Homo sapiens: one gene and its partner. The protein of the gene in region 2 interacts with the protein of the main gene of each other region in a pairwise test. Each region holds a gene or a part of one and is shown on either strand. Other genes may lie near its edges.

What was found.
Region 1: the proteins of RFX6 (region 2) and KIF1A interact in a two-hybrid assay, tested with the Homo sapiens proteins (one large-scale study listed by BioGRID and IntAct).

The regions. Positions count from the first base shown.
Region 1 is NC_000002.12:240,719,145-240,722,960, forward strand, and holds part of KIF1A (kinesin-like protein KIF1A), read right to left. Parts: intron 3,513-3,816; coding exon 3,312-3,512; intron 2,741-3,311; coding exon 2,663-2,740; intron 1,895-2,662; coding exon 1,770-1,894; intron 783-1,769; coding exon 630-782; intron 55-629; coding exon 1-54.
Region 2 is NC_000006.12:116,918,700-116,922,515, reverse strand, and holds part of RFX6 (DNA-binding protein RFX6), read right to left. Parts: intron 3,380-3,816; coding exon 3,220-3,379; intron 2,207-3,219; coding exon 2,062-2,206; intron 475-2,061; coding exon 365-474; intron 1-364. UniProt on the Homo sapiens protein: Transcription factor required to direct islet cell differentiation during endocrine pancreas development. Specifically required for the differentiation of 4 of the 5 islet cell types and for the production of insulin.

The DNA of each region.
Region 1 (3,816 bases), on a different chromosome or scaffold from region 2:
CCTGACGTGTGCGGCTCCAGGAAGTGCAGGTACCCCTTCTTGGAAACGATCGGGCTGAAGGCAGAGAGAGCTGCTCGCTGGGGCCCTCGGTGGGGGCAGCGACTGACTCGGGCACTCACCATCTACCACCCAGAGCTGGGACGCAGCAGTGCCAACCACCTCCCCAGCCAGAAAGTGGGTCGAGGCATCGAAGGGCACCTGGCAGAACCCCAACCCAGCAGGCCGGAGACCAGACCACCAAGCCAGCTCTGGGCCTCAGTTTCCCCACCATAAAATGGAAAAACTTAAAGAAATAAGCTAAAGTTGCTGAAGGCTGTCACACTGTACCCAGTGACCACGAGTTCCCCACCTGGGCCTTGGCTCTGACCCCACCCACTCCCCTGTGCTCTGTGCTGGTTCCCAGCCTAGGCATGTGGGTCACAGGGCCCTGCCTGACCTCCCAGCATGGAGCTGTCCCTCCATGTGGGTCAGGGGCAGCCTGCCTGAACCTCCAGTATGGGCATCAGGCAACCTGTCTGTCTCCCCAAGTATGAGGGTCCCTGTGCCCCCAGTATGGGGAGCAGGGTGGCCTGCCTGTCCCCTGTCAGCACAGAGCTGGTGGCGGTGCTTTCCAGGGAGGCCCCACACACCTGACTCGGATCTCCTGGATGTCAGGGACCAGCAGGCGCTGGGGCTCCTTGTCTGTCTCTGTTGCCCGGGCAGGGGAAGGGAGCTTCTTGGAGTCGGCCTCTGGCAGCAGCTCGGGCTCTGGGCTGGCTGGCCGGGAGCAGGGCTGCGGGGTCCTGGGAAGCAGAGGGAAGTGCTGCCCACTGCAGGCCTCCCTGGGCCTGGGGCCGTCTTCCCCCAGGCTTCACCCTCCTCAGAGCACCTCAGAAGGTGCAGTAGGGCACCTTCGCAGGGTCTCTCCAGCTGTGCCCACAGTGGGAGCTCCCGGGGCCCGTCCACCAGGATAGCCAAGCTTGTGCCCGATTCCAGGAAGTGCTGGGCTTGGTGGGCAGGGTCCCCCAGGAACCTCGGGGCCCAGCCAGGGAGCCTGTGCCCCACTCCACGCCCTTCTCCCAGTGGCTCTCCTGCCCCCACCTCCACCCTGTGAAAGCAAGTCCAGCATCTCTTCATCTCCACAACTAGACTGAAGGTGACACGAGGTTCCAAGGAGCCACTGGAGCAGAGGGTGCCGATGGCCTCCCGCATGGGCCCCCCACATGGGCCAGGCCCCACGCGACTCGACCTGGTGGTCAAGGAGGCCTGCAGAAGACAAGGCCAGCTGATGCCACCGTCTTTCTTATTTAAATGAAAATCTGGAACCCTTAAGGCGCTTAAAACAAGAGTGAAAAGCATCTGCCTGCTTATGAATTGTACATAAGGGGTTCACACGAGGTCTCTTCCAAATGCGGACCTGCAGGGGCCAGGTGTCCCCTCCACAATACTGACTCTAACGGCTCTCATGCCCTCTTTCGTAACCTTTTCTTTTTCCATTATTTTATAAGCACTGTCTCAGGAAAGGGGAGCTTTAGCTTATTTTCCACCCATTTCTGGTCTTCTTCAGGGAAGAGAACACACACACACTAGGATGGAGCTGGCGGGGCACAGGCACCCTCTGAGAGGGCTGCGGACTCCACTCCTCCAGGCCCTTCCCTCAGCCTGTGGCCACCCCAAGGCACTCGGCCATTGGGGCCCCCTGTTCTGTGCTCTCTGTGCCCGAGTCACGGCCATGGTCATGGGTCAGCCGTGGTGCCAGAAGCCACTCCGGGAGCCTGGAGCTCACTCACCTCAGGTCAGTGGCACCGTACCGCCCTTCAACCAGAGAGGGGCAAGTGGAGGAGGGGGTGAGAGTGGCCACCCCTAGAGGGGACATCGACGGGTCCCGGAGCAGGGTGACAGACATCTCGGAGAGCTGCGGAGGAGAGGCCTTTTTCAGGGGACACAGGGAAGGGGGGTCTCCGGCCTCTGTGGGAGCTGCTCCCTGTGCCTGCGCTTACCCCACACCTGCTGCTTAGGGCACCCCACCCCTCCTACCAGCAGCCTTGGCTCAAAGTTGGCCAGCTCAAGACCCCCGGCCCCCTCCAGCCCCTGTGGCCCCTGGCCGGCCCCTCCCATCACTTCAGGCTCTGGCCTGACCCAGGCAGCCACCCTGCCAATGCCTCGAGGAGTGGGCTGGGTAAGCTCTGCCCTGCCGCCTCCTGCCCATGCCAGCGTGAGGTGGCGCTGGGTGATGCCATGGGGACAAGGAAGGCCATGGGCCAGGGCTGGAGCTCCACGCATAATGCAGCACAGCAGCAGTTTCCCAGGCTACAGGGGTGGGGTCGGTCCCAGGAGGAGGAGGGACAGCCAAGTGGGAGCTTGACTGACTGGGCCAGAGGCCACAGGGTGATGGCCAGACAGGGTGGGGGCCAGGAAGACAGCAGAAGCCTGCAAGTGCATGGGTGCATCCAAGGCCACAGGACCCACCCGGCCCCTCACTCACATCCCCACCTCCCATGGACCCCAGGCCGACCCAGGGAAACCAGCCACTTAGGTATGAGGTGTCCCTCTGCACTGAGACGTGTTCCTAGGAAACTCTTAACTGCCTTTTCCCACTTGGAATGGGAGTTTTCCTCAGGGACCACTGCCTATGGGAGCCCGAGCCCTGCGGGGCAGCCTGGTGCAGCCCCTCTGCACCCACCTTGCTCTCGCTGGCACTGACGCAGACGTGGCTGTGTGTGTACTCTCTGTTGAATGTGTGCGTGAGCAGGCGCAAGCACTGTGGACAGAGCACACGCGTGGTCAGGGGCCAGGCCTCCCGGGACCCTGCTCAGACAGCCTTGCAGGCTCTTCTACCCACCCCTCCCCAGACACAGGTGGGTTCCGACGCCAGAGCACAGTGGGTCAAGGTGGGCAGCACCTCCACCCCGCCCAGGTCATCGGGTGAGCCCAGGAAGTCTCCCAGGGTCAGGCACCGGCTGAGGGCCTGGTGTGAGGGCCAGAGGCTGTGCTGCCTCCAGTGCAGGAGGCGCAGGAAGCCTTCCCAGAGGCCCGTTCAGCCGCCAAAAGAGCCACTTGTGGGTGGAAGTGGTGAGCTCCCCATCAGCACAGGTATTCAAGAGAGTGATTCATCGCTTGGGAAGGGAGGCTGCAAAAGGCACCCAACTTTCAGTGCAGGTGGGGTGCAGTCAGTGGGCAAGGGGACCCTAGGGACCCCTCAAGCTCCTAGCTCCTGGTGGTGCTAACCAGAGCAGCCATGGGCAAGGCCGGGTTGCTGGAGTTGCCCAGAAATGACTCAGGGCCCTTGAGGGCCTGGGGCTACGGCTGTACTGCCCACCAGCTGGACCCACCTTGACGGCCAGCTCCCGCTGCCTCTCGTTGGGAGCCTCCAGGGGTGATGGGCGGCCCTCAGCCGAGAGCGGGGAGGAGGCGCTGGAGGAGCCATGGGACTCAGAGTCCTCGCTGAAGGCCGGGGACAGTGCCTCCGGGACAGGCCGCTGGGCGGTCTCCAGCTTCTCCCGCAGGAGCAGGTAGTGCCTAGTCTTCTCCACCTTCAGACAGGACACAAGGCCTTACCTGCTGCACCTCAGGGGTGACCTCCGGAGTTGTGCTCAGCCTCAGCAGCAGCATGACCCTCTGGGCAGACCCCGGAGAGCCCACCCTCCCCTGGGCTAAGACTGAAGACTGACAGCCCTCAGCTGTGAAATGAGGGAACAGACCCTGGCGCCCCGGGGCTGACAGCCCTCAGCCCCCACCCCAGCCCTGCCACCTTCATGGGCAGCAAGCAAGCTGCTCCTCTCAGACACATCCATCTCACGCGCCAGGTTCTGGGGCAGGGCTGTGCTGCCTTGCAGT
Region 2 (3,816 bases):
TTCCATCAGCATTTATGAAATCTTGCTTTTTAGAAACGGGCCAGATCATTCCAGTTTCTAAGTTTATCTTTCTCTACTGATGTTACTCAGCTGTAATGTTATTGACTGATAGGGAAGGCAGAGCATCTTGTAGTCTTTCGGCAAGAAAGGAGAAATATAATGGAATCCATGCCCAATGCTCTCAAATCTTGACATATTCCTAATTTCAGTATTTGGCCTGCCTTATTCGTAGAGCATCAAAAGCTTTTCAAAGCCTTTACACACACAGCCTTCCACCCCTCTCCCCCCAGACAAAAAATTATAGCCAGTTTAGCATTTACTCTTTACAAGGAACTTATTTTCTGAATCTGTCATTAAAAAGTACCTTAATAACTCTCTGTTCTACCACAGTATCCAACCATTCAATAAAAGCCTCCACAGTGGCATTCTTCTTAAGGAGATCCTTCAGTTCTTGGAACACAGTGATAGAGTCATCTACCCAGGAAAAAAAAAAAAAAGAAAGAAAAGAAAACAGAATATTGTACTCTACTTGGAATCCAAGAGAAAACCTAAAACTTGGAATCATCAATACTTTGATAGCATGAAAGGGAAAGACAGATAAATGTGTGAAAAGAATTAATATCATATCTTGAAAACAGTAACAAAAAAATCCTTAGTACTGTACTCTTCAATGGTGTGTGTGTGAGAGAGAGAGAGACAGGATCTTGCTTTGTTGCCCAGGCTGGAGTGCAATGACGTGATCATGGCTTACTGCAGCCTCAAACTCCTGGGCTCAAGTGACCCTCCTGCCTCAGCCTCCCAAGCAGTTGGGACTCCAGGCACGCACCAACAAGCCTGCCTAAATTAAAAAAAAAAAAAAATTATAGAGCAAGGTCTTGCTGTGTTGCCCAGGCTGGCCTTGAACTCCTGGGATCAAGCAATCTTCCCACCTCAGCCTCTTGAAGTGTGCCCGAAATTTTAATAAGTGTATATATCTTGGTATATATTGAAATATAGGTTTAAATCTTATATGTGTATTCACATACTAGGGAAGATTAAGTTGTTTATGTAGTTAAATATTCATTTTGAGTCTAGTGTTTTCATTAAACGGAACAGATTAGTTAAAAGTGAATGAATGAACCTAAGCTTGGTGATTTCCTGCTTTCCAAAATATCTTTTATCTTTAGTAAAAGTTAATTTCTTCTCAGCAGAATTGAGCCATTTACCTGAATAACGTTTTATCATGTAATATTTAAAAGGGCAGTTTAAGACTATCCTTTTATTAAAGGTTTTAAGGTTTACTGAATCTCAAAAGGTAATCCTATTTTATGTTAGGAAATAAAAAGTGGAGTTGAGATTGGGCCCCAGAGAGCAGTCCATAGTTTGTGCTCCAGTGTATAGGAGGCTGCAGGTTTTGTCTTTTCAAAGACAGAGGGAGGAAAAAATAGTGGCTGTTATCCCTTGAAATTCAAGCCTAGTTGTCTAGCCATGCATATTGGCTTGGTAAGCTCTCTCAGATGGTCCAAACCTGAGTAGAGAGTCTGCTTTGAAAAGCAGTATTGTGCTGAGATACCATTTTGATATTTATCACACACCACAGGATGACAAGACTATAAAACACATGTAAATTTCTATACATGTAATGTAAAACTGAAAGAAAACTTACAAAACTCAAAACAATTTGATTATTTTCAGATTATTTCCATTTCATTTATTTCTAGGTAATGAAATTACAGATGACTTTTATTTTCCTCAATATTTTCTATCTTTTCCATGGTGAGTAATTATAACTATTTTTTATTAGAAGATAAATTTTTTTAATTAAAAATATTTTTATAAACCAGGTTTTTTTTCAATCAGATGTGATTTTTCAGCCCAGAACACCTTTGACAATGTGGGGAAACATTTTTGGTTGTCTCAGCTTGGGGGAGGCTGCTACTGTCATCTAATGGGTAAAGGTCAAGGATGCTGCTAAACATCCTACAGCACACTGGACAGGCTCCTCCAACAGAGTTACCCAGCTCAAGATGTCAATTTTCTGAGCTTAGAAAACCTTGTTCTAAACAAAGAGAATGGACTTACGTTCAGTGTAGATACCAGATTCAGTGTCTGTGCTGCCTGAAATGGTAAGAAGGGCTTGAGAGCCAATGCTGTTCAAATCAACCCTTTCAATATCAGACACCATAGAATTAACGACATGCTGGTCAAAGAGAGCTGGTCTGGCAATCTGCATAGAGAAAGTAAAGAAGACACTACACTATATCATTTCTAATGTATCTAGAAGAAATTTTTAGCTATCAGAAAAATAGTTCCTTGAGATAAAAGTATCATAAATAACTTTTTTCTTATTTTAAAGACAAAAGCAGTAGCTGAGACTCATGATCATCTCTGTTAAAAGTCTGAAAATTATAGGAGATACACCTAATGTAAATGATGAGTTAATGGGTGCAACACACCAACAGGGCACATGTATACATATGTAACAAACCTGCACGATGTGCACATGTACCCTAAAACTTAAAGTATAATAAAAAATAGAAAAAGAAAATATAAATGGATTCTCTTTGTCCATGATCACAAAATAAGAATTTTTAAATGTTACATTTCCTATCTGAAATCATCTCAAGCTTGTCTTTTAAAATTTAGAAGGCAAGAAACCTTCATAAAGCAGATAATCATTTTGGGGAAAGAGAAATATATTTTAACAATATACAAATGCATCATTCTTAACTTATGAATTACTTTTGCTCTATTTAAAAGAGCCATGATTAGTCGGCAGTTTAAAATGTGTTGAGTTTGTGGTTTCACAATATTAAGTATCACACAGGCTTACTTCTCACAACCTTAATTTGTACCAATTAGATTCACATGGCAAATAAATGTTTAATTGCATTCAAGTTTTTTAAATTTCCAATCACAGAGAAGTTGCAAAGATAGTGCAGAATATTTCCATATACTCTCCATCCAGCTTCTTATCATCTTCTGTAACTATTGTATATTACCCAAATTATGAAATTAACATTGGTACAATACTATTAACTACAGACATAATTCAAATTTCACCAGCTTTCCCACTAATGTGCTTTTTCTATCATAGCATTCACTTCTGGGTCTCACGTTGCATTTAGTTGTTGTCTACTTAGCTCCCTTCAATCTATGAAAGTTCCTCAATCTGTCCTTCTCAGAAGATTCATTTTTTATATGGTGACTCAAATGCTCTCGACTTAGCAACCAACATACCTGGGCAAGATGTAAGAAAGATGTTTGTCGTTTCAGAGAAGATACAAATCTTCGCACAATAGGTATTTTCTTGTCAGTTAGAGCTTCTGGCAAGTTTTCCAAGGATGAAACAACCCACTGTTCCCAATTTTTAGCAAAATTTCTTATGTCTGCTAATAAGCTACAAAGAAGGCTATGTGTTAAATGCTTCATTGTTAAAAAATGCATTAAACAATCATATTTTAATTGAGGTATACTATTATTCTATGGTTTCATAAGCAGTACTTTTGAAGTCAGACAGCCTAGATCTGCCATTTATCATCTTTTCTTATGCTATATTTTTAAAATGTTTGTGGGTGCATAGGAGGTGTATATATTTATGGGGTACATGAGATGTTTTGTTATCATCTTGGTCAAAACACTCAAGCTCTTCAAACTCCACTTCAAGTACCCAATTCAGAGTACAGAATAGATATTTAAAGACTACAATTGATAATTAAAAGACATTATTGATCAGGCTAATACCAACTATCATATAGATGAAATAATCTGGAGGAAAAGGTAAATAAAAAGTAAAATTTGTTTTACCAAGCAACATCTATTTTTGGAGCACCAACT